Homo sapiens: one gene and its partners. The protein of the gene in region 2 interacts with the protein of the main gene of each other region in a pairwise test. Each region holds a gene or a part of one and is shown on either strand. Other genes may lie near its edges. The genes, in order: HSFX2, SDR16C5, HSFX1 and FUNDC2.

Region 1 (8,732 bases), on a different chromosome or scaffold from region 2:
CTCTGTCTCCCAGCCTGGAGTGCAGTGGCGTGATCTCGACTCACTGCAACCTCTGCCCCCTGAGTTCAAGCGATTCTCCTGCCTCAGCCTCCCAAGTAGCTGGGATTACAGGTGCCTGCCAACGTGCCCGGCTATTTTTTGTATTTTTAGTAGAGACAGGATTTCACCATCTTGGCCAGGCTGGTCTTGAACTCCTGACCTCGTGATCCACCTGCCTCAGTCTCCCAAAGTGCTGGGATGACAGGCGTCAGCCATCGTGCCCAGCTGAGATTCACAGGAAAACCACGATCGGAGGGGTGTAAGTTTGTAGGAAAGAGGTTTTTAAGTGGCAGCATCTTTGCATGATTCAAACTCTGGAGGCATATGCATAAAGTCCAAGAAACACATGAGAAAACTGTACTTCTTGGAAACTAAGGAGCTCACAAATGATGAAATGTGATTCACACCGATTTGTAAATGAGCACCCATTTGTAAGTGAGCAGGCCGAGACAGGGAGATCCACCTGCAGACCATGGCTGGACTCTGGATTAATCCATTCCCATGTCTGCATTCTCTTATGGCCTCTTCCCACGTCTCCCAGGACTCTGCCACCTACTGTCAAATTAAAAATCACAGGCAGGGATACCTCTGGGTTCTGGTGTGTGGGTGTTGGGGCTCTCTGCACGCCCTGATTTCAGAGCTCTTTTGATGTCTGTGCCCAGTTGTGTCTACGGTAAGAACTTGAATCTATTTCCTCTGATCAGTCAAAGAAGTTCGTCGATGATAGCATGTGTTCTAAGATGAACACCCCAAGTGAGCAGAAAAGGCTGCTTCCTAAGTTAAAACATGACATGACATCTTTTAAATTAATTTTTGACTCCAAAAGAAAGGAGAAGGAAGGAAGGGAGGGAAAGAGAGAGAGAGAGAGACACGGAAGGAAGGAAGGAAGGAAGGAAGGAAGGAAGGAAGGAAGCAAGCAAGCACAGAGAGAGAGAGAGATGGAAGGAAGGAAGGAAAGAAGGAAGCAAAGAGAGAGAGAGAGAAAAAAGGAGAGGAAAGGAAAGTAGGAAGGAAGGGAAACAAGAAAGAAAAAGTGGGGGCATAGTGGGGGAATCAAGGAAGGAAGTAAAAAACCCCACCAGATCCAGTACAGACATAAAAGCCAAACATAAATCCTGTCCACCAGACACTAATGAGCACCCTCTAAACTGCAAACCCGTAGGACTCCTTGGTAGTATGTGTCACCTCCACAACTATCAAGGGCACTTTTTAACCCAATGACAAAGCCAGACGTGATCTCATCTGTATGTAAAGTGAAGATCCTGTTATATAAAGGCACCGCCATGACAAGGAATGGCCAGTAACACAGAGTCATTGTGAACCCTAGGCCGGCAATGCTAGCAGCACAATTAGCACTCAGCGAGCAACTCCAGGTAATTTTTTTTTTTTTTTTTTTTTTTTTAGACGGAGTCCTGCTCTGTCGCCCAGGCTGGAGTGCAGTGGCGCGATCTCGGCTTGCTGCACGCTCCGCCTCCCGGGTTCATGCCATTCTCCTGCCTCAGCCTCCCGAGTAGCTGGGACTACAGGTGCCCGCCGCCACGCCCGGCTAATTTTTTGTATTTTTAGTACAGACGGGGTTTCACCGTGTTAGTCAGGACAGTCTCGATCTCCCGAGCTCGTGATCCACCCGCCTCGGCCTCCCAAAGTGCTGGGATTACAGGCATGAGCCACTGCGCCCGGCCAGCTCCAGGTAATTTTTAATGAGTAGAGGCGGGATGTCTGAGGGGCTTCCTAAAACCCAGCACCTGCTCGAGTATCTCCTGGGCACTTTTCCAGGGAGGCGTGTTAGGCTGAAGTCTCTATCATGCAAGCCAAAGATGTCGGAGGGGGGTACTGGACTGCAAAGAAAGAAAAAGGATGGAGACCATGAAGACTTTTTTGTGCAGTCAGAAAATTACTCATTTTCTGACACATTTATTGACCAGCACATATTCTGCCCAAATGCTGCCCTCTATGTGCTCTGGTCTGCGTAGTCTGGGTACGCCTGGGGCCCATCGCTAGCTGGCATGTACTGTGACGTGCGGTGGCTGTGGGGGCAATGGTGGTGCAGAGCTGGGAGATGGGGGAACATGACCATGGAGGCAGCAGGCTGTGCAGCCCCAGCAGCCACTAGGGTCACCGGTACCCAGAGATGGCAAAAGGGCAGCATGCCAGGTGCAGGAAGTCCTGTGGTGTCCATGGCAAGGGTACTACGGGACGCTGTGGGAAGGGCCACCACAGGCCCGTAAGAATTCATCTGAGTGGGAGATCCAGGGACATAGAGGAAGGGCAGCGCTGCAGGCCCAGGGACAGCGGCCACCGGAGTGACGTGAGCCTGGCTGCCCTCTGACCACTCGCCGGCCGGCTGGGTCACTGGACTGTTGTCACTCGCCACGGCGGAATCAGGCACCATCACAGGAGTTGCTGGTGGAGCAGAGCCACTCCTGATTTGGGTGTTGGGACCGGCCGGTTCCCGGTGTTGCGGTGTGACCTGGTCATTCTCATTCGGAGACGTGTGATCTTGTTGCTCAGTGTCTGCTGGTGCCAGACAGGATCCAGCAGCTTCTGGCTTGTCCTCCTCCTGATGTCTTGGTGCAGACTTGACACCCACTCTTCTCTTCATCCTCACGAGGAGGTGAGGGGAGTCTCTTTGAAAGTAAGGATGGCAGTAGAACTCTAACTATAAGTCAAAGTTTAAATAAACAAAAGGAAACTGCAAGTCACAAGGATGGACTACAACTACCAACCATCTACGCCCCTGTGCAAGAGAACTCTACTGGCCCAGGAGGCCTTTCTGGAAAAGGTCCCAGTCCCCAAAGGAAGCTGGGGACTCGCGTTCACATCGTCAAGGTTTACCAAGTTGTGGCGGGCCTTTCCGTCTTGGAAAAAGCCTCAAAATGGCAGATTAGGGTGTCCATGGCCGGCGGAAAGGGTCTTTGAAGTTGCAGACCAGGAGGGAAGAAGATTCTGGGCCTCCCCCATGCAGTGTCAGCTGGCAACAGAATGCACCCCGGCTGGGTTGGAGGCCCTGGGTACTGGCTCTTCCACACCAGGGGCCCACCTACCAAGGGCAGCAGGAGCATCTGCACCTCCTGCGCCAGGCGCCCTTCAGTGCTTCCACTTGAGCACCTCTCCAGACACCAGCTAGGGTGACAGTGGTACAAATACCAGACTCCCCTGGCCTGCTCACCTCACAGGGTAATGTGCTGTGGAGTCAGGGGGACACAGCAACCGCCAGATGACATGGCTGGCCCCGGGGAGGACGACACGCAGATACGGCTACTTGGCACCTGTGATATTTTACACACTCGAGAGGGGCCCGCACCATCCTCAGCCCTCTCCCCACATTCACTCTTAGTTCATGTCACCTCCACCCAGAGGGGGACACAGGCCCACAGCGATGGCCCCACACCCTGCCTGAGGTCGCCCACTTCCCAGGAGGCAGTCCTGGGACTTCCACCCGACCAGGCCCCAGAGCCCACCGACTTAACCCCTCCAGAGGCTTGTCGTTCATTACCTTATTCAAGATGGAGACCAGCCTTTTTGCGGAGAAAATGCGGGTGAAGGTCCTGAAAGTGCATTGACGCCGTTTTCGGAAGCCATACAAGTTTAGCTGGCGGAAGAAGCTCTTTATCGAAGTTGTGGCAAACACTTTGTGTGCGACGTCCCTTTTGAGAATCTCCTTTTCAAAGAGTTTTTGATTGATCACTCTACAAGCCCCACTGTCATCCCACCAGATGGACGAAAACTGGTTGCTGCTGACCAGTCTCCACAGTTTCTGTGGAAAGGGGAGGGAGAGGAGATTATCTTCTCCCTGGGGCGGGACGTCACCGTCAGGGTGCGGCCTTCTGAACGAAGCTTCCTCGGCCAGAGGTTGGAAAGCGATTTCTTCTGTCAGCAGCCTCAAGTTAGGGCTCCCAGTGGACCCCGGGTCGTCCCAGGCAGGGGAAGGATCTGCTGGGTGAAGGTAGGTCTCTGACTGCAACTGGGGAGGGAAAGGCACCCTTTCCAAGCCATGATCCTGTCCCCTCGAATTTCTTTCTTCACAGCGAGCCATACTCAATGATCGCTTGTCCTCCATCTGGCAAACTTGCTAGTGCAGTGTGGCCAGCAGCACCCCTTGGCAGTCATGTAACCAGCCCCATGACATCATAAAGGGGCTCTGACTGCCGGGGGGTGGCATCTCCACCCCCAGCAAGTTGTGTAATAAAGGGCCAAGGCAGACAAGTAGCTGCCCATCTGCATGTGCACATTCTGGTCCTCACAGTCATTTCAATGGGAAAGATGACACTAGTGCACAAGAGTGCCGAGGGGCCCTGCCACACCGTAGATGCAGACCTGGAGCGGTCCCCTTGTCCTAGAGCTCCTGAGCCAGGCACAACTACAGCAAAGCCCTGGCTCAGGAAGGTCAGAGCTCACCGTCTGAGTCATGGGCCCACAGACCCCAGCACATGACTGACACTCGGAAGCACAGAACAAAGGGTAGGACGGTGCCCATGGGTCAGGCTGTAGCCACGCCACCCTTTCCACCCTGTCCTAGCCAGAGGCAGCAATGTGCTCCATACAGATCCTCCTAACACACCCACACTGTCGGTCCCCAGCACGCAGATGCCCGACAGCCCCTTAGGCAAATGGCTTAGCTGACTGCCCCACCACACGCCGTCGCCATGCAGTCCAGTGGGGAGTCGGAGGCAGCCTCCTTCCTGCCTCTCCTCGGCCTGCACGTGTCCCCCCACCAGGCAGAGACCCTTCTACACCCCGGGTGTCTGCGGTCACATCGCGGTGGGGCATGCAGCTGTTGGCCTTCGAGCATGTTTTGTTTTCCTTGGCCAGTGTCTCCAGAGAAACGCACGTGGGTTTGTGTCCAGCGGTCCATCTCTGCAACAGTTGTTCCTTTGGGATTGGATGCTAGGAGGTCACGGGAGAGGTGTCCATCCAAAGCAGTGTCTGTGTCACACACTGTCCCCACACACAGGGCCACCTCTGCACAGACTCCCCCGACTCGATTCTGGGCACAGAGCTCAGTGACCTTCCAGAGACTGCCACGAACCGGTGATGCCTCCACGCTTGAGACATCCTGACCGCAGGGCCCAAGGCGCACTGGCTCAGGGGGTGACAGTGAGGGGTCTGCAAACAGACTGCTGATGCTCAACCCGGCCGCTGCCGAGCTGTGTGACTTGGGCACGTCACTTAACCTCTCTCGGCCTCTGTCTCCTCCCGGGGATAAGAGTAGTAGCACCTGCTTCCCGGGGCTGTGAGGATCCAGTGGGACGTATAGGAACTAGCGAGGCACCGGCAGTTGGGTCAGAGCTACTGTTGTCACTTCACAAGGCATTTTCTTCAACAGCAAGTCGGAAATCTCATGAGCCTAAGGCAGAATCCACCTGTGGCCTCTGGTTACAACCCACAGGACTGAAAATCCTTCCAGCCACAGCAACTGGTGAATTTCCTGGTCAATTGCCACAAGTCATGAGCTGAACCCCACTTGAGTTTCAGTTCAGGCAGAACTCTAGAGACGACTAGGGCAAGCTAGACAGCGACTGCAGAGCCTTTTGTTGCAGCGTGAGCAGTCCTCAGCTGTTGACATCACTGGGGAGCAAACGAGGACCAGGAGCGGTGAAAGGACAGTGTCTGCTGCAGATTGTCGTAGCACCCAAGGAACACTCCAGAAAGCCTCCTAAGCAGTAACAAGTGTGGCAAGGTGTAGCCCAGCCAACAGTGGCATCTGCGAGGCGTCCCCTCCTTCCTCCCACTACCCCGTATACCCTGGGACCTGTGCACTGAAGGACTCATTCTAAAGGCTGTGCCCCTGCAGCCGCCAGCCTCACTCACTGGCTGCCTGTGCCAGCTAGAGATTTCTTTCCTCTGAGGCTGGCTGAGAGGACCACTCCAGTTTCCTGGCCCATCCAGCAAAGAAGATACACATCATGCACGTGTAAAATGAGGAACCGGTTTATTGAACAGCTTAAGGAGAGCAAAAATAGTGGCTTTAGCTACATTTTTTACACACTGAGCAGGAAAGTCTAAACCATCCCGTTCCCCTGTACCCCAAAGAGAACAGGGCTTGCTGGAGGCCAGTGCCAAGGGCGGAGTCGTGCTCGCAGCAGACTTGAATTAACCCCATGTAGGCCGGCGAGCAGTTGCCCGCGTGAAAACACCACCCTCTTCTCCTGGCTGAGAAGATCAAAGCTCTTTTTTTACCCTCTTTTCAGCAAAGGACCTATTTGTTTTCAGGCAGGAGGATGTTAAACTTGCAGCCTCTGACACACGGTGGAACCTGCAGTGCTTGGAGAAACGGCACGCACACGTGAAAACATCATGCCTACTCCAAAGCCTTCTTGTTGCTGGCAGGAGGGAAGCTTGAGACTTTCCCACGCATAGTCGTGACCCGCGTGGCCGTTTCTGCTCTCAGCAACATTCTCTAGTGTTCCGGCTTCAAGCAGCGCTTGTCAGGTTTGAAGCTAGCCACTATTCTGAGAACGTCAGAAAAGCATGGACCATCTCTTGCTTGGTGTTGCCGTTGTGGCAGTAGCAGCTACTACGTACCTGCACGAGTTCCAGGGCAGAAGTGGCAATGTCCCATGAAGGCGTGGCACCCCACGGGGGGGGGGGGAGTGTGCCACGGGCGTCCACTTCTGCAGCAGAAGGCATGTGCCTACAGCACAAGCTTGTAAAAAAATACTTGAACAGAATATGCTGTACAGAACTAGGGGTTAACACCGCATATGAAGATGCTAAAACATTTGTATAAATACTCTGTATACAAGCATGGAGTCACTCCCGTAGAAAGGGCTCATCCGTGAGGCTATGAAAAACTGCTGTCAGCATGCCCAAAGAGAAACTACTTCCACAGTAGGAACAGAAAAAAGGACTGTGCTGTGTCTAAACACGTGGTGCATCAGAGACATAGTTACAGTTCCTACTGACTGCCCCAGCCACGACCTGGGAGTGCTGAGGACCTGGGAGTGCTCAGCGAGCTGCAGGAGGTCAGCCCTGTGGAGAAATACATTTCTAAACAATACTTTTGATTGGGATTTCAGCACCGTATAGACAGATGTTCCTTCTGGGGGCCTGGCAAGCAGCCATCTCCCAGTGGGTCTGACGGGGAAGAGGGGTACCTGGAGCCCCTCCCAGACAGACGGTAATCCCACCCCTGTTCTCACACTCTTCCTGGCATCCGCATCTGCTGGCACACACCCCCGTCACCTGCCACTTCCGCGTCCCGTCGTGGTGAGTGGCTGATAGGCGCTGGATGCAAACAAGGCATGAGATGGACGTACCTGGAGACCCAGCTCCAGTACTGGTTCTGGTCTGCGGGGTGAACGAGGGGGCAGAGGAAGGCGGAGAGAGTGCGTCCCAGTCCACTTAAGCTCTGTCCCCGGAAGTGGCATCTAATCTGGCATTTCGATATTTAATTTGGGAGGTGGGAGCACATACTTCCCAGGGCTCTGGGTAATGACCACCCTGGCCTTCTTTCGAAACATGGGTGCGATTTTAGGGGGCTCCGGAACTGGGGTCTCTTCGGTTTCTTCATTATCTTCGTGATGGAGATCATAGGAAATGTTTCCATATTCTCGTAGAAATGGGAAGATTTCAAGCAGAAACTGACAGAAATCTTTGCGGATACCAAACCACCCTGAAAAATAAGAATTTTTTATTTCACACACGAGGCTCAACTGACCTTCCTGTTAACTTTCTTTCCGTAACAAGAAGTTTCACTCCTACAATGTCATAACATACTTTATCCAGACTCCTGAGTCACAAAGCCTGAACAGGGCTTGAGTACCCAAAATGGGGAAGAAGTGCAAATGCTAGCTCTGTGGTGCTTGGAGTGGGGTTCCCGGACCGGCAGGGACAGCGTCCACGGGGCCTAGTTAGGGATGCCATTCTCGGGCCCCAGCCCAGACCTCCAGAAACTGAGTCGGGCTAGGGTGGGCTCCAGCGGTCCCCTTTTCCTGGCCCTTTTGGGATTCTGCTGGATGCCCAAGTTTGAGAACTACTGCTCCAGTGAGTCTCAAAATATCTGTGGTGCGCAGACTACGGTGTCTTCCGCTAATCTTCTCCAGCCAGGATAAACTCATGGATGACAGTGCCACCCAAGAACAAGATTTCTGTCACCCTCTGGAATCCGTGAGGGCGGTAGTCATGCACGGGTTGGCCAGGAGGGGGCCTGAACTCATGGAGCCACCTTAAAGCCACTTTCCCAGTCCCACTACTCCTCTCTGTAGGCTACTGGAGTGTCAGCTCGGTGCAAGCCCTCCCTGCTCCCGGGTGCGGGGTAGGGGGCAGAGGCACAAACAGCAAGCACAGCCCGGGCTGCTGGGCTGCAGTGAGGCCCTGCCCCCAAACCCACTGGCTTTCCGAAGGGCAATGCTCTGGGCTTCCGTGCCATGGAGCCCACAGCCTTGCCAGGAAGGCACCCTCTGCAGAGATCGTTTTGGAAGTGTCTGCCTCAGCAAGCAGGTGGAGGGGAATAGAGTGTTAGCAAGGCAAGACAGGCAAGACTCGGGTGATGGCAGCAAGGATATGGGGGAGGCAGAGCGGCCAACAGGGACCTAGGATGAATCCCAGGTTTGGGTGGGAGATGTGGATTTTCCATCAAACCCTCCCGGGCCTGGGAAGAATCTGTCTTGATCCCCATTTTGCAGAGGAGGGAACGGGATCTCTGAGAGGTTGCCTGCCGTGTCTGGTTCTACCTCAAATGGCAGCGTGCA
Region 2 (8,808 bases):
TTCCCGAGCCATCTTACATGTTTCCTCATTCCCCTCCTTATTGATATCCCAGAGAACAAGAACAGATCCCAGCCGGGCAAACTGCAAGGCTAAGAGCCTTCCGAGTCCACTTCCAGCACCTGTGATGAGGACTATTTCACCAGCAACGTTCTTCCGTGGCTTTGGGAGTAAGGCAAAAATCATAGCCTCCAGAAGACTAAACAGTGATTTTCCTAAGAAAATGAACAGTTTCTTTGATGATTGCAGGTTGAAAGACATGTTCTGGCTGACACCTGTGAAGAAAGACAGATTCACATGAAGACTTATTTGTCCATTTCCTCTGAGTTGTTTACTCCACGGAGCTCCTATTTTCTGAAACAGTGAAAGTAACTGAGATATGTGATTTAAACAGCTCTCCTGGTAGCAGACTCTGTATTCAGAAAGTGGGAGGAGGAAGCCACAGGGACTATACTTATTCGGCTTTCTTACTTGGCCCCAGGCTCAGCATGTTATTTGCATGCCTGCTATGTGCAGTACACAACAGAAATGTTTGTTAACCAGGAACTGTAACCACCACACCCAAATTTAACACAAAAGAATAAGTTCATTATTGCTCATAGTTAGCCTTTCTTCATAATAATAATGAATCCTGTTGGCTGATTTTATGTTCAAAGTCTTGACCACATCACAATGTTTATAACATCATTACTACCTCTCTGGCTTTATGTTTCTCTCCTTTGATGTTTGTGCTTTCTCATTTGCATTCTCGTTAATTTTGCATTACTATTTAAAATCTGAGATTTGAGAGGAAAATGTAAAGTCCTATTTGTAGAAAGCATTTGACAGGAAGTAACCAGATGTTCTAGACCTTTTCCGACAGATTTGCAATCAGCACCAGATAGCCCTTCCCTAGGCTCTGAGGTCCCCGCACCAACAGCTCTATATCACTTACCACTCTGTGTGATTAAAGGTCACAGGCGAGGCAGACCTGGACTCCTGCCCTGCACTGCCTCTGCCTACCTGTGAACCCCATGGCGGGGGTTCTCTTGGCCTTACACTGGGCCTTGGTCTCTTCATCTATATTGGTCCCGTGGCATAGGGTGTTTTTGCAGATGAAATGAGAATGTTCCACGTATGACCACAATGCCTGGCTTATAGTCAGTGCTTTACAGATGTTATCACATTTCTCAGATTCATAGTGCTGCCCACCAAGAAGGCATCCACTAGGTCTGCTGAATGAATAAAAGGCCTCCCCTTGACAAACTCATACAGAGCTTAGTGCTTACATCCTGCTACCAGTTACTCACACTTTAGTGTGAATGAATATATAAGGTGTGCTTTACTAACCACTAGCTGAGAAAGAAGGGAAGGTCTTATTTCCTTCAGGATGGGAACAGAAGACATATTTAGCAGACAGCATACTGTGCTGGGGGTGGGAGCCTTCTCTGAATGGGGTGTTTAATTGAGAGGCTCAGACAAAGGCACAGGTGTGAGGAGACAGGAGGGGAGTAATGAAAAAAGAGCAGGTCTTCACAGTTTGGCTGAAGTCAGCCTAGTTGCGGTTAATGAGTAAGGGTGGATAGATTCATCTACAGGAGGACTTGGTATGTGGTCACACCCTTAGGAAATGTCGAGAGTCGATGCAACCCAGGCTGTTGTTCCTGGCTTATTGTACAGATGAGACTGAGGATCGAAGAGAAGATGTATGTGACTTGTTCAGGGTCCCTGTGCTGGTTAGCTGGTGAGGGCCAGATTGGTTCATGTGTTATGTTTATTGAGTATCCACCCTGTGCTGGTTCTATCTGGGCACTGGGGCTGAGGGGATGGGCAGCCTCTCATAATCTCTGTGCAGGTGAGCCAAGTAATCTAGTTGAAGAGACGTATTCAACAAATAAACAGATCGTTATAAGCCATAGTGTTATAAAGAAAAGTGCAGTGTGCTATGGAGAGGATGATCGGAGAGCTGATTCAGATTGGGCTTGGGAGAGGAAGCAACAGATGTCTGCTGGAAAGTGACCCTTTGAGTGGATATCCAAATGATGATGGTGGGAGGTAGGGATATTGAGCAGTAGCTTTCCTGGCAGAGGGACAAAATAGTTTGTTTTAAGGCAGGTTTGACCTGTGTGTCCAGGGCTGTCCAGAGAATAAGAATGTTTGCTCTAAGGAACATGGATGCTCTGGTCAAATGAAGAACGTTTTCATCCATGCTTTGATGAAATAGACCTCAAACTCTCTGTGATCTTTGCTCTGATTTACATTCACAGAGTAACTTTTGAATGATTGATCAGGCCTCTCAGGCACTGCAGAACTTGAAAAGGTGTCCTGAAAGAGGACTCTCATATCAAATACATGGAGCCTGTACCTGTGGATCTGCAAGGATGAGGGTCAGACTGTGCACACAGTAATGGGAAACCCTAGGCGCCCTTCTCAGACAGCAGCCTGGGCGTCGCCAACTTTGGAAAATCCACACCAGGAGTAGTTGGTCAGACCACCACATTCCCTTTTATATCACTATGTGAATTCACATAGAGGGACAGAGGTCTACTTCTCCCATCACAGGGCTCCAGCACCTCAGCAGTGGCCAGAAGTCTCAACATTGACCTGGGTGACATGAACGCTCTTAATGTCAGGACATTCTAGATTTCAGTGTTCCACTGTCTCAATGTTGGCTTGATGCAAGACCTAAAATATGTCCATCTTTTAACCCTGTCTTGGCAGATGCTTACTAGATTTCTAAGAGCTTGTCAGCCTGAGTTACCTCCCTTCCCCAGTTGAAGTTTAGGGTGCCTGCTGGGTACCCACACAGGCAATGAGGTCTAGAGATTAAAGTTTGGGTTGGAATTCCAGATATATCACTGATTTTCCCTGCAACTTTGGTAGAAATGATTTAATCTCTTGTGCCTCAGTTTCCTCCTCTAAAAAGGGAGTTTCTAATAGTGCATAGGAATACTTACCACACAGAGGAGCTGTGAGAATTAAACCAGTTTATATAGGTAAAGTTTTAAGGAGCATTATGTGGTCACTACTAGCTTGTGTGAAACCTTCGAACAAATTAGAAAAAAAAAAAAAAAAAGGCATTGCCCTGCACAAAGTCCTCTGCGGGGTGCAAGGGGTTGGGGAGGGGGTGCAAGAGGAGCTGTTTGGATTTCAACACCTGCCAGCTTACATGTCTCCCCCTCTGCTCCTCAATCCCCATAATAATGTGGCACAGCCATAAAACATGGAGGCCTTTCTAGAACAGTGCCAGGCACAGAATGACAGCAAAATAATTAATGGCTAGAACTTCCACTGGTCCTGTTAAGCATATGAATTAATAATCCCTGGCTATATCAATTAAATATGGTTATAGTATACTTACAAACAAGAGTGAATGTACGGTTCCATTTTACTGCAAAGACTTTCCTAGAATGTTACGGAGCGTATACAATTTAATCTGGCAGAAGTCTTCTAGGTGTCCCTATCTCGCGGCCTACCCAATCCAAACAGGCGCCCTCGGCTTCCCATACCAGTGCGCGGCAGCAAGTCGGCTCTGGTGAGGGCACCCGGACGAAACGGGAGGGCAGACAGACTGACAATCACAGCTTGGGTTGAAAGGGGTGATATGGGGGTTGATATCCACCCGGAAGGTGGATGCACTGAGCAGCAGAGAGCAGGGAACCTGGGCAGAACGGACCGAAGAAGAGGGTCCGGGGAGGCATCCTGCCCTCTGCTCCGGGTGGGGAGGGAGGCTGGCAGCTCACCCCCGGGGGCGAGGGGTCTGCGTTAGCCGTAGCCACGGGAGCCCGGGCTTCTGGGACGCTCAGCCGTGCGCTACCCGGTGCAGCTGCTTTCTCACCAGCTCGCGGGTGGGTCCTGCCGCGGCTCGGCGACCCGCGCCCCCTTGCGAGCGACCCAGCGTGAAACCAGCCCAAAGGGCGGCCTCGCCCGACCCCCGCCAGCGCGACCTCCTCCGGGAGCCAGCACCCAGGACCGACGACCTCGGCAACTTACCCAGGACACTCTCCCTAGCTGTCCGCGGAGAAGCCGGCCTCGTCTGCCCCAGGCACCCGAGTCCCTGGCTCGGAGCTCAGTCAGGTTCAGGTGTTTATCCAGGCGCCGCCCAAGTCCAAGGGCGGGACTGCCGCGGCAGCGCCAGGGGTGGGGCCGGCCGTAGCCCCAGTGCGCGACGTGGGCAGCACTCCCATCTTCTTTTTCTGGACCTGCAGATTTAAGAAGCTGGAAATTCGGTGGTGGAAACTGGATGCGTGCGCCGGATTTCTCTTAGGCTTAACGTTTCAATGCCTAGGCTGTACCCTAGATTATTAGATGGGAATTTCTGGGTTGGTAGGGGCCTAGGCATTAGCTAGAAAAGTTTCCCAGGTATTTGCAAGGCACAACCCCGAGGTTGGGAACCCTGGAATTAGAGAACAGAGCAGTATAGGCGTCCACGGGGGAGGGGCCAGGTCGTGTGTCTGGAGCCTGCAGTGCGGGGAGTTCTCCAGCAGCATCTGACTGCTCCACATGGGATCTTAAGTCAACAGCTTCCTTGCCCCTTGGAGGTAAAGGATGTGGGCGTGGGCTCGGAAGTCCCCGGGAAGTGGGTGGGGTGCAGGCAGGGGCAGGAGTGGGTGCGGCGCTGGCAGGCGGCCTAGGAGAAGAGGGCGAGGAAATTTGTTCTAACAAGATGAAGCCGAGAAATGAGGCTAGCGTAAGAGTCACCAGGCACTCTGACCCAATCAAGATATATTAAGCATCTGGGTGTACAGCGATCCAGAAGATAACAGCGATGATATATCTGTCAAGAAAAAAAAAAAGGAAAAACATTCATTAATAAATCAATAAAAGAGTTAATATAAGCACAAGACACCACTGAGATGCTAATAATAGAGGGTGAACTTTTCTGGGGGCAATGAGGGGCAGAAATGACAATAAATTATGGGATGTTGAAAGAAAAACAGGGGAGTCATGATGAGATTGGGTTTGAAATTTATCCCGGGGCTGAGTAGGACAGGAAAAGTGGTGAGGGGTCGAAGAGCAGCCTTAGCCAGCCCATATCTGGGACAGGTCTGGAGTAGAGGAACTGCACATTTGTTCTTTATTTGGGTGACAGAAGAAACAGGCAGGTCGTATAAGCTTGGAAAAGTAGGTGCAGGGGAAACCCTCGACTGTCTTTTCAGTACTTAAGAGGTTACTTGTGTGCTTTAGGCAGCAGCAGCGAGCTGTGGCAAGCTATGCGAGGCGTGTGGGAAGGTGAGTGGGTAAATGTGCGTGCATTGGTTTCAAGTCAGCCGTCACCACACAGCGACACTGCTGTGTGGGGCTCTGGGGAGTTGCAGGGCTTCTGAGGGAGAAGGGAGACACATTCATAAACAGTGCGGGTGATAGACATGCACCCCAGGTGCTTCCAGAGTCCACAACCAGCCTGCAGGAGGAGAGGCAGTTGGACTCAAAGGGCCTTCCAGAATGGGCTAAGGTGTGGAGGTGAGCAGCACCTGGGAGTGAGAGTGGACTGAGGCAGAGAGACGTCGGGTAATGGGCCCTTGATGGTGCAGCCTGCCTGCAAGAGTTCAGATGAGTGGACACTGGGAAACACCAGCCTCCTATTATCTTCATGGCTTCTCTGAGCAGAATCCTAGGCTGTCACTCTTCTTTCTGGTCAGAAGCCCTGGGTGGACCTCAAGAAAGAAATTTGGAGCATTATTAGAAATCTCATCAGTACAAAAGATGAGAGTGAGTAGTGGGGGATGCACCGGTGACGCAGTGAAAGAAGCCAGAGGCCCTGCTGGTTGGAAAGGGTCCTGCTTTGACTTGATGTGGGGGAAACTCAGAGGACTGACCATAATCCTGAAAGCTGGGAAAGGATTTCTAAAGGGTCTCTTTTGGCAAAGGCTAGGAATGGACAGTTTATGATAGAACATGTGTCATGGGCTAATAAACATGAAAAAGTGGTTTAATCTTATTCTCAATTTCTTTGATCTTAGGGCCAAAGAGATGCATATGAAAACATTTCTTACCTTACAAATTGAAAGTTTTTTTTTTTTTTTAAAAGAATGCCTTCATATGGGGGTATAAATTATACATTTCTGGAAAACAAATATGTTTCAGGAATTAGAAAGGGATATATCCTCTGACCCAATTCCACCTTTATCTTTACCAAATACCCAGGTATTGTCTGTGGCCTTTCAGGAAGGGAAACTGGGTCACTGAGAGTCAGGGATGGGAAAGAGACTTTCCACTCCACTGAATCATGTGAAGTAGTACCTTTTTAGGAAACAAGTATATTAATCAAAATAAATTGATCTTTAATTCCTAAGAAGTATGTGCCGATGGAGTACTCTACAGCCATCTTTATAAAATCATGTTTTTCAAGGGTATGAAGTACACTTCACAGAATATGAGTTTAAAAAACACAGTACAAGACTAAATATATTTGCTATGATTCTAATTTCTATGAAAATTTTATGTACATGCATTAGAAACACTGGAAGAGAGTTCATCAACATCTTAACACTTTTTGTAATATAGTAGTGGAATGTTGGTTGAATTTATTTCTTTGTATCTTTTTGTATTTTCCAAATTTTCCATTATGTGTATATCTTTATCTCATAATAAAAATGTTTCTGTGGCCACACATACACAGATGCTTCCATTCCAGATAGCACAGTGAGCATACGCATTCATATCCTATTTTCTTCCAAAATTCCATTGAAATAAAAGAGAAAATATAAAAATGCAAATAAACACATTAGTGCTAGAAAAAAGAAAGGAGCTACCAGTGAGGGTTGACTTCATTAAGCAGATGGATCCTATTTCCAGAAACCAGAGCAAAAGATACTTTAAGCTATGACACACGGAAGGTACTGCAAAAATGAGTCATTCTTCCCAACAGAAAGCCTGAGTAACCACAATTCAGTAAACAAACGCAGAGTGTAAATAGGACACGGGACACTCAGATGGAATAAGAGTGTTAATATAAAAAACAACACTCTGAAGGTATTGAAATACAATATTGAAAAATTGTTTTGAAATTTGGGACTAGGCAAGGAAATATCATAAGCAAAGTAAGATGATAAACAACAGACTAGGAGAAAATAGTTTTGCATAAAGAGTTGACCATTGATAATTTGTCATAATATATAGCATTTCTATAAACTGATTGAAATAAGACAGTGGGAAAAATTGATAAAGAAATTTATAGGCAAATAAATATAAATTACTGAAAATGCCTAAAAAGATGCGAAATTTCACTCATATTCAGGAAAAGGAAATTGGAAAAGGAATAACCTTTTTTTCATTCATTAATATCCACATATTAAAAAGTCAGATAAGAATTTAGGATTGGGGCTGTGCATGGTGGCTCATGCCTGTAATCCCAACACTTTGGGAGGCCAAGGCAGGTGGATCACCTGAAGTCAGGAGTTCAAGACCAGCCTGGCTAACATGGTGAAAACCCGTCTCTACTAAAAAATACCAAAATTAGCCAGGGGTGGTGGTGGGCGCTTGTAATCCCAGCTACTCACTAGTCTGAGGCAGGGAGAATTGCTTGAACCCGGGAGGTGGAGGTTGCAGTGAGCAGAGATCGCGCCATTGTACTCTAGCCTGGGTAACAGAGCAAGACTCCATCTTGGGAAAAAAGAAAAAAAAAAAGAATTCAGGATTGGCAAGGGTGTGGGAACACAGACATTCTCAAACAATGTGGGGATATTTGTCTTTGAGTCTTTTATGGACAGTAATTGGGCAGTAGCTATCATAACTTTTGACTGCTATTTCACATTTAGGAATCTATCACATAAGAATATTGACACTTCCAGCACTCTGGGAGGCCGAAGTGGGTGGATAATGAGGTCAGGAGATCGAGACCATCCTGGCTAACATGGTGAAACTCCATCTCTACTAAAAATACAAAAAATTAGCTGGGTGTGGTGGCACGCACCTGTAGTCTCAGCTACTCAAGAGGCTGAGGCAGGAGAATCGCTTGAACCTGGTAGGCAGAGGTTGCATTGAGCCGAGATCACGCACTCCAGCCTGGGTGACAGAGTGAGACTCTGTCTCAAAAAAAAAAAAAAAAAAAAAAATTGACCCATGTTTATTGAAGATTGTGATAGTAAAAAATGAGAAGCTACTTGAATGCACAGCTATTCCATTAATCACGATATAGTCATGTAATAGAATTCTCTGAAGCTGAAAAAAAGGATGAAGTTAGAAATATATTTAGTGGCAGGGAGAAATCTCCAGGCTGTGGTCAGTGAAAAAAAAGTACAGAATTATTCCACTGAAATTAAATTGATGATTACTGTGCATTGTGCATGCACATGTGTGTTCACATGTGTGTAAAACAGATGGAAATGCACAGAAGAATGGATCTGGAAGGCTACACACCAAACCGTTGGCAGTAGTTACCTCGGGAGGGGCACAGAATTGAGTAAGGGGCAAGGAGAGTCGCCTCCATTATGATATATATTTCTGTATTGTTTGACTTTTTATAAATGGCGTGCAATATTTTGTTATATTAAAAACAGAAAAAGATGAAAAAAATGCCTACTTTTAAAAGACTCGTTTAAAGAACATGTTGTCTTTGGGGATTACTTGGTAAAACAGTAGAGTAAGTACAGTCAGCAGATGATACTTTCACAAATATATATGTTTAACCAAAATGCATTATTTGGCAGAAGGAGATTGTGAAATCCTCAGAGAAGTACATGATTAGTGTAAAGGTAGACTTATTTGTTCAATGACAGGAAGAGAGCAGTGTTAGGCTGGAACAGAAGTAGTAAACGAACATGTGAAAGAGTAGGATGAATAATACATACTGATAATAAATCCAAGAGTTGAAGGAGAAAGGGGACACGT
Region 3 (8,626 bases), on a different chromosome or scaffold from region 2:
AGCTCATTTCGAGCTTTCCCCAGGGATAGGTGGTTTCCTGCCTTTTTCTGGCGGTGCTGATGTTCCCTCTTGTGGGAGCTCACGCGGGGGTGGGGTGGTGGGGAGGAACTGCCTAATGAAGTCTGGCTTCCGCCTCTGCCCATTTTCGGTGCTGGCATCAACCGGGACTATGTCTCTTTCTTTAGATTCTGCTGGTTCACAAACTGGATGGCCACAACGCCTTCTCCAGCATCCCGATCTTTGTCCCCCTTTGGCTCTCGTTGATCACGCTGATGGCAACCACATTTGGACAGAAGGGAGGAAACCACTGTATGTACTCAGCATTTCAGAAGTCCTTGGTGTGTGTCTGGGGGGGGACCAGGGAGTGGGGGGGGGGCGGATAGAAGTCTAGGAAGGGATGAGTCCCCGAGGGCCCCAATTTAGAAGCTTGTGTGGGAAAGTGAGGGCTGAGGAAATTCTGGGACCTTCTAAGGGAAGGGCATGCCGTAACTCTGGTGTTCTGCTGGCCTGCACCGGGACTTTTCTCGCAGTGCACGCTGCCATTTGAGGTAGAACCAGACACGGCAGGCAACCTCTCAGAGATCCCGTTCCCTCCTCTGCAAAATGGGGATCAAGACAGATTCTTCCCAGGCCCGGGAGGGTTTGATGGAAAATCCACATCTCCCACCCAAACCTGGGATTCATCCTAGGTCCCTGTTGGCCTCTCTGCCTCCCCCATATCCTTGCTGCCATCACCCGAGTCTTGCCTGTCTTGCCTTGCTAACACTCTATTCCCCTCCACCTGCTTGCTGAGGCAGACACTTCCAAAACGATCTCTGCAGAGGGTGCCTTCCTGGCAAGGCTGTGGGCTCCATGGCACGGAAGCCCAGAGCATTGCCCTTCGGAAAGCCAGTGGGTTTGGGGGCAGGGCCTCACTGCAGCCCAGCAGCCCGGGCTGTGCTTGCTGTTTGTGCCTCTGCCCCCTACCCCGCACCCGGGAGCAGGGAGGGCTTGCACCGAGCTGACACTCCAGTAGCCTACAGAGAGGAGTAGTGGGACTGGGAAAGTGGCTTTAAGGTGGCTCCATGAGTTCAGGCCCCCTCCTGGCCAGGACCCGTGCATGACTACCGCCCTCACGGATTCCAGAGGGTGACAGAAATCTTGTTCTTGGGTGGCACTGTCATCCATGAGTTTATCCTGGCTGGAGAAGATTAGCGGAAGACACCGTAGTCTGCGCACCACAGATATTTTGAGACTCACTGGAGCAGTAGTTCTCAAACTTGGGCATCCAGCAGAATCCCAAAAGGGCCAGGAAAAGGGGACCGCTGGAGCCCACCCTAGCCCGACTCAGTTTCTGGAGGTCTGGGCTGGGGCCCGAGAATGGCATCCCTAACTAGGCCCCGTGGACGCTGTCCCTGCCGGTCCGGGAACCCCACTCCAAGCACCACAGAGCTAGCATTTGCACTTCTTCCCCATTTTGGGTACTCAAGCCCTGTTCAGGCTTTGTGACTCAGGAGTCTGGATAAAGTATGTTATGACATTGTAGGAGTGAAACTTCTTGTTACGGAAAGAAAGTTAACAGGAAGGTCAGTTGAGCCTCGTGTGTGAAATAAAAAATTCTTATTTTTCAGGGTGGTTTGGTATCCGCAAAGATTTCTGTCAGTTTCTGCTTGAAATCTTCCCATTTCTACGAGAATATGGAAACATTTCCTATGATCTCCATCACGAAGATAATGAAGAAACCGAAGAGACCCCAGTTCCGGAGCCCCCTAAAATCGCACCCATGTTTCGAAAGAAGGCCAGGGTGGTCATTGCCCAGAGCCCTGGGAAGTATGTGCTCCCACCTCCCAAATTAAATATCGAAATGCCAGATTAGATGCCACTTCCGGGGACAGAGCTTAAGTGGACTGGGACGCACTCTCTCCGCCTTCCTCTGCCCCCTCGTTCACCCCGCAGACCAGAACCAGTACTGGAGCTGGGTCTCCAGGTACGTCCATCTCATGCCTTGTTTGCATCCAGCGCCTATCAGCCACTCACCACGACGGGACGCGGAAGTGGCAGGTGACGGGGGTGTGTGCCAGCAGATGCGGATGCCAGGAAGAGTGTGAGAACAGGGGTGGGATTACCGTCTGTCTGGGAGGGGCTCCAGGTACCCCTCTTCCCCGTCAGACCCACTGGGAGATGGCTGCTTGCCAGGCCCCCAGAAGGAACATCTGTCTATACGGTGCTGAAATCCCAATCAAAAGTATTGTTTAGAAATGTATTTCTCCACAGGGCTGACCTCCTGCAGCTCGCTGAGCACTCCCAGGTCCTCAGCACTCCCAGGTCGTGGCTGGGGCAGTCAGTAGGAACTGTAACTATGTCTCTGATGCACCACGTGTTTAGACACAGCACAGTCCTTTTTTCTGTTCCTACTGTGGAAGTAGTTTCTCTTTGGGCATGCTGACAGCAGTTTTTCATAGCCTCACGGATGAGCCCTTTCTACGGGAGTGACTCCATGCTTGTATACAGAGTATTTATACAAATGTTTTAGCATCTTCATATGCGGTGTTAACCCCTAGTTCTGTACAGCATATTCTGTTCAAGTATTTTTTTACAAGCTTGTGCTGTAGGCACATGCCTTCTGCTGCAGAAGTGGACGCCCGTGGCACACTCCCCCCCCCCCCCCCGTGGGGTGCCACGCCTTCATGGGACATTGCCACTTCTGCCCTGGAACTCGTGCAGGTACGTAGTAGCTGCTACTGCCAGAACGGCAACACCAAGCAAGAGATGGTCCATGCTTTTCTGACGTTCTCAGAATAGTGGCTAGCTTCAAACCTGACAAGCGCTGCTTGAAGCCGGAACACTAGAGAATGTTGCTGAGAGCAGAAACGGCCACGCGGGTCACGACTATGCGTGGGAAAGTCTCAAGCTTCCCTCCTGCCAGCAACAAGAAGGCTTTGGAGTAGGCATGATGTTTTCACGTGTGCGTGCCGTTTCTCCAAGCACTGCAGGTTCCACCGTGTGTCAGAGGCTGCAAGTTTAACATCCTCCTGCCTGAAAACAAATAGGTCCTTTGCTGAAAAGAGGGTAAAAAAAGAGCTTTGATCGTCTCAGCCAGGAGAAGAGGGTGGTGTTTTCACGCGGGCAACTGCTCGCCGGCCTACATGGGGTTAATTCAAGTCTGCTGCGAGCACGACTCCGCCCTTGGCACTGGCCTCCAGCAAGCCCTGTTCTCTTTGGGGTACAGGGGAACGGGATGGTTTAGACTTTCCTGCTCAGTGTGTAAAAAATGTAGCTAAAGCCACTATTTTTGCTCTCCTTAAGCTGTTCAATAAACCGGTTCCTCATTTTACACGTGCATGATGTGTATCTTCTTTGCTGGATGGGCCAGGAAACTGGAGTGGTCCTCTCAGCCAGCCTCAGAGGAAAGAAATCTCTAGCTGGCACAGGCAGCCAGTGAGTGAGGCTGGCGGCTGCAGGGGCACAGCCTTTAGAATGAGTCCTTCAGTGCACAGGTCCCAGGGTATACGGGGTAGTGGGAGGAAGGAGGGGACGCCTCGCAGATGCCACTGTTGGCTGGGCTACACCTTGCCACACTTGTTACTGCTTAGGAGGCTTTCTGGAGTGTTCCTTGGGTGCTACGACAATCTGCAGCAGACACTGTCCTTTCACCGCTCCTGGTCCTCGTTTGCTCCCCAGTGATGTCAACAGCTGAGGACTGCTCACGCTGCAACAAAAGGCTCTGCAGTCGCTGTCTAGCTTGCCCTAGTCGTCTCTAGAGTTCTGCCTGAACTGAAACTCAAGTGGGGTTCAGCTCATGACTTGTGGCAATTGACCAGGAAATTCACCAGTTGCTGTGGCTGGAAGGATTTTCAGTCCTGTGGGTTGTAACCAGAGGCCACAGGTGGATTCTGCCTTAGGCTCATGAGATTTCCGACTTGCTGTTGAAGAAAATGCCTTGTGAAGTGACAACAGTAGCTCTGACCCAACTGCCGGTGCCTCGCTAGTTCCTATACGTCCCACTGGATCCTCACAGCCCCGGGAAGCAGGTGCTACTACTCTTATCCCCGGGAGGAGACAGAGGCCGAGAGAGGTTAAGTGACGTGCCCAAGTCACACAGCTCGGCAGCGGCCGGGTTGAGCATCAGCAGTCTGTTTGCAGACCCCTCACTGTCACCCCCTGAGCCAGTGCGCCTTGGGCCCTGCGGTCAGGATGTCTCAAGCGTGGAGGCATCACCGGTTCGTGGCAGTCTCTGGAAGGTCACTGAGCTCTGTGCCCAGAATCGAGTCGGGGGAGTCTGTGCAGAGGTGGCCCTGTGTGTGGGGACAGTGTGTGACACAGACACTGCTTTGGATGGACACCTCTCCCGTGACCTCCTAGCATCCAATCCCAAAGGAACAACTGTTGCAGAGATGGACCGCTGGACACAAACCCACGTGCGTTTCTCTGGAGACACTGGCCAAGGAAAACAAAACATGCTCGAAGGCCAACAGCTGCATGCCCCACCGCGATGTGACCGCAGACACCCGGGGTGTAGAAGGGTCTCTGCCTGGTGGGGGGACACGTGCAGGCCGAGGAGAGGCAGGAAGGAGGCTGCCTCCGACTCCCCACTGGACTGCATGGCGACGGCGTGTGGTGGGGCAGTCAGCTAAGCCATTTGCCTAAGGGGCTGTCGGGCATCTGCGTGCTGGGGACCGACAGTGTGGGTGTGTTAGGAGGATCTGTATGGAGCACATTGCTGCCTCTGGCTAGGACAGGGTGGAAAGGGTGGCGTGGCTACAGCCTGACCCATGGGCACCGTCCTACCCTTTGTTCTGTGCTTCCGAGTGTCAGTCATGTGCTGGGGTCTGTGGGCCCATGACTCAGACGGTGAGCTCTGACCTTCCTGAGCCAGGGCTTTGCTGTAGTTGTGCCTGGCTCAGGAGCTCTAGGACAAGGGGACCGCTCCAGGTCTGCATCTACGGTGTGGCAGGGCCCCTCGGCACTCTTGTGCACTAGTGTCATCTTTCCCATTGAAATGACTGTGAGGACCAGAATGTGCACATGCAGATGGGCAGCTACTTGTCTGCCTTGGCCCTTTATTACACAACTTGCTGGGGGTGGAGATGCCACCCCCCGGCAGTCAGAGCCCCTTTATGATGTCATGGGGCTGGTTACATGACTGCCAAGGGGTGCTGCTGGCCACACTGCACTAGCAAGTTTGCCAGATGGAGGACAAGCGATCATTGAGTATGGCTCGCTGTGAAGAAAGAAATTCGAGAGGACAGGATCATGGCTTGGAAAGGGTGCCTTTCCCTCCCCAGTTGCAGTCAGAGACCTACCTTCACCCAGCAGATCCTTCCCCTGCCTGGGACGACCCGGGGTCCACTGGGAGCCCTAACTTGAGGCTGCTGACAGAAGAAATCGCTTTCCAACCTCTGGCCGAGGAAGCTTCGTTCAGAAGGCCGCACCCTGACGGTGACGTCCCGCCCCAGGGAGAAGATAATCTCCTCTCCCTCCCCTTTCCACAGAAACTGTGGAGACTGGTCAGCAGCAACCAGTTTTCGTCCATCTGGTGGGATGACAGTGGGGCTTGTAGAGTGATCAATCAAAAACTCTTTGAAAAGGAGATTCTCAAAAGGGACGTCGCACACAAAGTGTTTGCCACAACTTCGATAAAGAGCTTCTTCCGCCAGCTAAACTTGTATGGCTTCCGAAAACGGCGTCAATGCACTTTCAGGACCTTCACCCGCATTTTCTCCGCAAAAAGGCTGGTCTCCATCTTGAATAAGGTAATGAACGACAAGCCTCTGGAGGGGTTAAGTCGGTGGGCTCTGGGGCCTGGTCGGGTGGAAGTCCCAGGACTGCCTCCTGGGAAGTGGGCGACCTCAGGCAGGGTGTGGGGCCATCGCTGTGGGCCTGTGTCCCCCTCTGGGTGGAGGTGACATGAACTAAGAGTGAATGTGGGGAGAGGGCTGAGGATGGTGCGGGCCCCTCTCGAGTGTGTAAAATATCACAGGTGCCAAGTAGCCGTATCTGCGTGTCGTCCTCCCCGGGGCCAGCCATGTCATCTGGCGGTTGCTGTGTCCCCCTGACTCCACAGCACATTACCCTGTGAGGTGAGCAGGCCAGGGGAGTCTGGTATTTGTACCACTGTCACCCTAGCTGGTGTCTGGAGAGGTGCTCAAGTGGAAGCACTGAAGGGCGCCTGGCGCAGGAGGTGCAGATGCTCCTGCTGCCCTTGGTAGGTGGGCCCCTGGTGTGGAAGAGCCAGTACCCAGGGCCTCCAACCCAGCCGGGGTGCATTCTGTTGCCAGCTGACACTGCATGGGGGAGGCCCAGAATCTTCTTCCCTCCTGGTCTGCAACTTCAAAGACCCTTTCCGCCGGCCATGGACACCCTAATCTGCCATTTTGAGGCTTTTTCCAAGACGGAAAGGCCCGCCACAACTTGGTAAACCTTGACGATGTGAACGCGAGTCCCCAGCTTCCTTTGGGGACTGGGACCTTTTCCAGAAAGGCCTCCTGGGCCAGTAGAGTTCTCTTGCACAGGGGCGTAGATGGTTGGTAGTTGTAGTCCATCCTTGTGACTTGCAGTTTCCTTTTGTTTATTTAAACTTTGACTTATAGTTAGAGTTCTACTGCCATCCTTACTTTCAAAGAGACTCCCCTCACCTCCTCGTGAGGATGAAGAGAAGAGTGGGTGTCAAGTCTGCACCAAGACATCAGGAGGAGGACAAGCCAGAAGCTGCTGGATCCTGTCTGGCACCAGCAGACACTGAGCAACAAGATCACACGTCTCCGAATGAGAATGACCAGGTCACACCGCAACACCGGGAACCGGCCGGTCCCAACACCCAAATCAGGAGTGGCTCTGCTCCACCAGCAACTCCTGTGATGGTGCCTGATTCCGCCGTGGCGAGTGACAACAGTCCAGTGACCCAGCCGGCCGGCGAGTGGTCAGAGGGCAGCCAGGCTCACGTCACTCCGGTGGCCGCTGTCCCTGGGCCTGCAGCGCTGCCCTTCCTCTATGTCCCTGGATCTCCCACTCAGATGAATTCTTACGGGCCTGTGGTGGCCCTTCCCACAGCGTCCCGTAGTACCCTTGCCATGGACACCACAGGACTTCCTGCACCTGGCATGCTGCCCTTTTGCCATCTCTGGGTACCGGTGACCCTAGTGGCTGCTGGGGCTGCACAGCCTGCTGCCTCCATGGTCATGTTCCCCCATCTCCCAGCTCTGCACCACCATTGCCCCCACAGCCACCGCACGTCACAGTACATGCCAGCTAGCGATGGGCCCCAGGCGTACCCAGACTACGCAGACCAGAGCACATAGAGGGCAGCATTTGGGCAGAATATGTGCTGGTCAATAAATGTGTCAGAAAATGAGTAATTTTCTGACTGCACAAAAAAGTCTTCATGGTCTCCATCCTTTTTCTTTCTTTGCAGTCCAGTACCCCCCTCCGACATCTTTGGCTTGCATGATAGAGACTTCAGCCTAACACGCCTCCCTGGAAAAGTGCCCAGGAGATACTCGAGCAGGTGCTGGGTTTTAGGAAGCCCCTCAGACATCCCGCCTCTACTCATTAAAAATTACCTGGAGCTGGCCGGGCGCAGTGGCTCATGCCTGTAATCCCAGCACTTTGGGAGGCCGAGGCGGGTGGATCACGAGCTCGGGAGATCGAGACTGTCCTGACTAACACGGTGAAACCCCGTCTGTACTAAAAATACAAAAAATTAGCCGGGCGTGGCGGCGGGCACCTGTAGTCCCAGCTACTCGGGAGGCTGAGGCAGGAGAATGGCATGAACCCGGGAGGCGGAGCGTGCAGCAAGCCGAGATCGCGCCACTGCACTCCAGCCTGGGCGACAGAGCAGGACTCCGTCTAAAAAAAAAAAAAAAAAAAAATTACCTGGAGTTGCTCGCTGAGTGCTAATTGTGCTGCTAGCATTGCCGGCCTAGGGTTCACAATGACTCTGTGTTACTGGCCATTCCTTGTCATGGCGGTGCCTTTATATAACAGGATCTTCACTTTACATACAGATGAGATCACGTCTGGCTTTGTCATTGGGTTAAAAAGTGCCCTTGATAGTTGTGGAGGTGACACATACTACCAAGGAGTCCTACGGGTTTGCAGTTTAGAGGGTGCTCATTAGTGTCTGGTGGACAGGATTTATGTTTGGCTTTTATGTCTGTACTGGATCTGGTGGGGTTTTTTACTTCCTTCCTTGATTCCCCCACTATGCCCCCACTTTTTCTTTCTTGTTTCCCTTCCTTCCTACTTTCCTTTCCTCTCCTTTTTTCTCTCTCTCTCTCTTTGCTTCCTTCTTTCCTTCCTTCCTTCCATCTCTCTCTCTCTCTGTGCTTGCTTGCTTCCTTCCTTCCTTCCTTCCTTCCTTCCTTCCTTCCTTCCTTCCTTCCTTCCGTGTCTCTCTCTCTCTCTCTTTCCCTCCCTTCCTTCCTTCTCCTTTCTTTTGGAGTCAAAAATTAATTTAAAAGATGTCATGTCATGTTTTAACTTAGGAAGCAGCCTTTTCTGCTCACTTGGGGTGTTCATCTTAGAACACATGCTATCATCGACGAACTTCTTTGACTGATCAGAGGAAATAGATTCAAGTTCTTACCGTAGACACAACTGGGCACAGACATCAAAAGAGCTCTGAAATCAGGGCGTGCAGAGAGCCCCA
Region 4 (4,744 bases), on a different chromosome or scaffold from region 2:
CAGAGACGGATCCAGGGGCACTTTCTGGCCGCTGCCTGCTCGGGCTCAACAGATGGAGTCCAATGTTTCAGTCTCCCCCAAGAATGTGTATCCTCATTGCTGACACGGGAGCTGGGTGCGGGGAGAGATGTGGTGGTGGGGACCCTTGCCTGAGCAGCCCATTGTCATGAGTGTTATTGCCATTGTGATAATATGTTAGCATGACTCTCCTCCCAAATGGCCGCTTGTTTGTTGCAATCTCCCGCCACTCAGCCTCCAGACATTCATTAACAGGACAGTGGGGTTCTTGACTCCCCTACCACTGGGGTGACAGTCCTTGCTACTGGATCTGGGCAGTTACTGTCTCATGGATGCTGGCAGAAGACGATTCAAGTTGGCGGACTAGATTCTACAAGGAATGATCTCTTGCATAATTCTAGCCAACATGCTCTTGGGGTGGGTGCTTCTGGTTTTGGAAAGCAAAGTTACTGTGTAGTTAACAACTATTGTGGTAAGAATAGTCTCTCCATCATTCTTTTGTTTCACGGTTGTCAGAAAGATGGGCATAACTAATGGTTGGGCTCTTATTTGGAACCTCTACTTTTGTACAGTTTGGGAATCTCTGCTTGAAAAGATGGTATACTGATGGATTTGAAATTTCTGAGTATCATCAATGTTTCATGATGATCTCAATTTCTTCTCAGAGGGAAGCTCACAGCCAGTTTTGGACCCCAGAGAAAAATGTGGCTGCTGCCCTCTACTCCCTCTACCAAATTATCAGCTTCATTTCTTTGTCATGAAATCTAGTATGATTTCTCAGAAATCAGGCCCAGAACTAAAATACATTTTCTGCCCAATTTTCTAAGAGGTCACACTAACATCTGAGTAATTGGGCAGAAAACCTATTTTAGTTCTGAGCCTGATTTTTCTAGAAGTCATATGGTATAGCTTATATTTCCGATGCTTGCATTCTTTTTAAGGGGTCATGAATCTTAATACTTTTTTTTTTAAAAGAAAAGTGTCGCACTTTTTCACATTTTTATAAAGCTTTAAAGTCAGTTTACTGACTTTTCAAAAGTGTCTACCTTTTTAAATTTTAAAATGGTAAGAAATGACATTCCTGAGAGCAGTGGCTTTCATCCTTGCTTGCACTTGGGAATCACCTGTGAAATTTTAAAAACTACTAATGCCTGGCTCTCATCCTAGAGATTCTGATTTCACTGGTCTGGAGTGCTGTTCAGGCATCCTGAGGTTTTAAAGTGTCTTAGCTTTTTCTAATGAGCAGCAGAGACTGAGAACCACTGAAGTACACAGTTGGAAGCTGGTGCTGAAAAAATTAAGAGTTTTGCTGTTAACTCCTTAAGAGGGCTTTAAAGCCTTTTATATTAAGTGCCATACAACTTCAGATGCCTTCTGAATACTGAACACAAGTGTAATATTATAGTTCATTAAATGTCTTAGGAATCGTGTGGAGTGAATGCAAGGAAAGGAGTGACAAGATATCACCCCACAAATGACTTACCCATTACGAAGGGAAAACTACCTTTCTAGCTAAAAGGTCTGTCAGTCACTAACCAAGTGATTAAACTTAGCATCACTAATAGCCAACTTAACAAAGTTTTTTTTTTTTTTTGGTTTCTAAAATGGGAGATCATAGTTTTCACCTTCCTAGAGTTCTTTGCTTAAGACTGAGATTCAGTGTTACTCTTGGTCCCTAACAATAAGAAGCACTCAGTAAATGTTAAGCCTTCTATGATGGCTATTTTATTTTTTTGTATGTCATAATAATACCTAAGAATAAGAAGAGTTAAATTAATGTCTTCAAATGGATTTGTTGACTTAAACTGACACAATCCTTTAAAAGAAGGAACTGATTTGAACCTTTCAAAACTGAAAGAAAGTCGTATACTGATACAGTTTGGAGCCACCGAATGTCATGTTGAACCGTATTCCCTAATGGAGGTGGATCCTGGTGAGAGGTGATTGGATCGTGGGGGCCATCCCCTCTTGGTACTTCACTCATGATAGTGAGTTCTCATGAGATCTGGCACTTCACCCCTCACTCTCTCTTGCTCCTGCTTTGGCCATGTGGAGTGCTCACTCCCCTTTTGCTTTCTGCCATGGCTGTAAGTTTCCTGAGGCGTCCCCAGAAGCCCATCAGATACCAGTGCCATGCTTCCTGTACAGCCCATGGAACTGTGAGCCAACTAAACCTCTTTTATTTATAAATTACCGAGTCTCAGGCACTTTTTATAGCAATGCAACAATGGACTAATACATATACTTTAGCATAAAAACATTTAAAAGAGTCTGAAACTGGAGTAGTTAACTCAGTAAAAATAACTTGGCAATAAAACACAGAAAAACAATCTATTTGATCATGTAGTGATTCCTAATGTAAATCCTAGTACAACTGTCAACTGATAATTTTAAATGTAATTTAGATTTGTAGATGGTGTAACATTAAAGTTGTATGATGTTTTATTGTGTTATTATTAACACAAGACGTCATTTAAATTTCATGGGGATTTAGCTCTGTCACTCTGGTTTGTGGACCAAACGTCTCTAAGGCAGCATTTCTTTAAGTCGCTCTGGAGAGCATTCACACACAGAGATGCTGTCTGCAAAACAGGTTCACTTAGGTTTTTTGAAAGCTCTGAAGTCTGACAGGAAATTAACCTGTGTACTTGTATGCAACCTAGCATTCCCCAAACTTACCTGACCAGAGAAGCCTTTTTTTTTTCTTCCGGTTACAGCAATTCCTAGAAACACTTTGAGTAATGCTGCTTTAAAGAAAACAGTTGGTCTCAAATAATCATGGTATTTTAACATCAGGGACCTAGCAGAAATTGTTCCTGCTTTTAGTCATCTTTTTCTTTTTTAGAGGACAGCCTTTGGTGGTTCAAGCATCCATTTGAGGAAAGCAAATGGCCTGTTGCATGCTGCCTCCTCCTACTTCATAAAGTGACTGACAGCTGTCAACAGGCTTCATTCAGCAGCTTTGTATTAATGTTGTCTGGATCCTCTGTAACAGGTTTTTATTATCAGGATATAAAGAATAGATAAACCAACTAAGTTTGAATTATCTTGCTGCCTACCTGACTTCCAATGAAAATTTTTTCTTCAGTTCCTTCATGATAAATTAAGGATCATTAAGCATTACAAGAATCATTTCTATGCCTTTCCTACCTGGTTAGTCGCTGCAGTGGGGATGCAAAAGCAGAAAGAAATGCTCTTACTGGCATCTGGAAAGACACTTTTTGCTCTGCATTTTTGGAAGTACAAAAGGTAATGAGTTAGTTTAAAGGAAACTTTGAATTAGTTTAGCATGTAATCTATAAAAGGTATCAAAATTGGCTCACGCCTGTAATCCCAGCACTTTGGGAGGCCGAGGCGGGCAGATCACGAGGTCAGGAGTTCAAGACCAGCCTGACCAACATGGTGAAACCCCGTCTACTAAGAACACAAAAATTAGCCAGGCGTGGTGGTGCATGCCTATAATCCCAGCTACTTGGGAGGCTGAGGCAGAATTGCTTGAACCCGGCAGGCAGAGGTTGCGGTGGGCCGAGATCGCACCATTGCACTGTAGCCTGGATGACAGAGTGAGACTCCATCTCAAAAAAAAAAAAAAAAAAAAAAAAAAGGGCGTCAAAATTGTGATGCTGGAAGTGAGTCCTTTCACCTAACATACCTCATATGACTTAAATTTGATGAATGGCACTAGTGGCTTGAACTTCAAGAGAATTCATTAATACCCTATATCTAATAGTCTTAAAATACATTTAGTACAAAACCCAAATTTTTCTCTTAAACAGGTTTATTTTAGCAGCTCAGTATATTACATTCTACATATTTGTCTTTTAATGTGTTTATATTTCTGCCTGTTCTGCATAGATGGCATATTCATTAACTTTTGTAGCTGACTTTTTCATTTGCTATTTGCTGCTACCTGGCCTGAAGAGTCAGGAGGATAAAAAAAATTCATTTGGTGGAAACATGGAGCAGCACTTCAGAAGAACTTTACTTTGATGCAGACTTCCGTGTTAGGTTTTCTTCCTCTTCTTTTTCAAATCCTGAACAGACGACAGATCTTCCCTTGGGATACTGAGCACAACACTTACGCAGTTCTTGGATGACAGCCTGACACTTTGATTCCATGTAGCTGTTGGCTGAAAAACATACAGGCAGACTCTAGTCATGATCTCATAGGACTAAGGTACAGGGAGGTTTAGATCAGTGCTTCCCACCCCTTTTCACTTTCAGTACCTATGGAACTGGAAGAAAGAAGATATACCAAAGTCCACTGAATTCTTTCTAATTTAGAGACCTGTCGACAGGTTCGTTAGGGAAAGTATGATTTACAAAGTGGTTGAAAGCTATTTTAATATATAATTTCCTTTAAGGTTAATAGCATGTATGCACCTTTTTCTAGGACATTGGTTTTTAACATCATTTTTATTACTGGTCACTAATTTGATGAATTAGGAAAATGCACATACACCACACATTATTTTGCATACAGTTTAAGCTGATTGTTGGACCTCCCCTACTAAGGCTGTGCATCAGGAATTGGCAAACTGCAGCCTTAGGGTCAAATTCAGCCGGTTTTTACAGCTGGGAGCTAAAAATGGATTTTAATTTTTAAAGGGTTGTAAACACACAACACATACACAATATATACAACAAAGGCCTTTGGCCTCCAAAGCCTAAAATATTACTTGTTTGGCCTTTTTCATAAAACATTTGCAGATCCCTACTATACATA

Evidence for each region.
Region 1: the proteins of SDR16C5 (region 2) and HSFX2 interact in binary tests that used the Homo sapiens proteins (3 or more experiments, as listed by UniProt).
Region 3: the proteins of SDR16C5 (region 2) and HSFX1 interact in binary tests that used the Homo sapiens proteins (3 or more experiments, as listed by UniProt).
Region 4: the proteins of SDR16C5 (region 2) and FUNDC2 interact in binary tests that used the Homo sapiens proteins (3 or more experiments, as listed by UniProt).

Annotation. Positions count from the first base shown.
Region 1 is NC_000023.11:149,590,602-149,599,333, forward strand, and holds HSFX2 (heat shock transcription factor, X-linked), read right to left. Parts: upstream 4,714-8,732; 5' UTR 4,100-4,713; coding exon 3,536-4,099; intron 2,699-3,535; coding exon 1,991-2,698; 3' UTR 1,911-1,990; downstream 1-1,910. Other genes in the region: TMEM185A (transmembrane protein 185A), read right to left, coding at 7,410-7,654.
Region 2 is NC_000008.11:56,316,090-56,324,897, forward strand, and holds the start of SDR16C5 (epidermal retinol dehydrogenase 2), read right to left. Parts: upstream 4,087-8,808; 5' UTR 3,970-4,086; intron 273-3,969; 5' UTR 259-272; coding exon 1-258. UniProt on the Homo sapiens protein: Oxidoreductase with strong preference for NAD. Active in both the oxidative and reductive directions. Oxidizes all-trans-retinol in all-trans-retinaldehyde.
Region 3 is NC_000023.11:149,769,514-149,778,139, forward strand, and holds HSFX1 (heat shock transcription factor, X-linked), read left to right. Parts: upstream 1-4,554; 5' UTR 4,555-5,168; coding exon 5,169-5,732; intron 5,733-6,569; coding exon 6,570-7,277; 3' UTR 7,278-7,354; downstream 7,355-8,626.
Region 4 is NC_000023.11:155,057,844-155,062,587, forward strand, and holds the end of FUNDC2 (FUN14 domain-containing protein 2), read left to right. Parts: 3' UTR 1-2,461; downstream 2,462-4,744. Other genes in the region: CMC4 (cx9C motif-containing protein 4), read right to left, coding at 4,000-4,148. UniProt on the Homo sapiens protein: Binds directly and specifically 1,2-Diacyl-sn-glycero-3-phospho-(1'-myo-inositol-3',4',5'-bisphosphate) (PIP3) leading to the recruitment of PIP3 to mitochondria and may play a role in the regulation of the platelet activation via AKT/GSK3B/cGMP signaling pathways.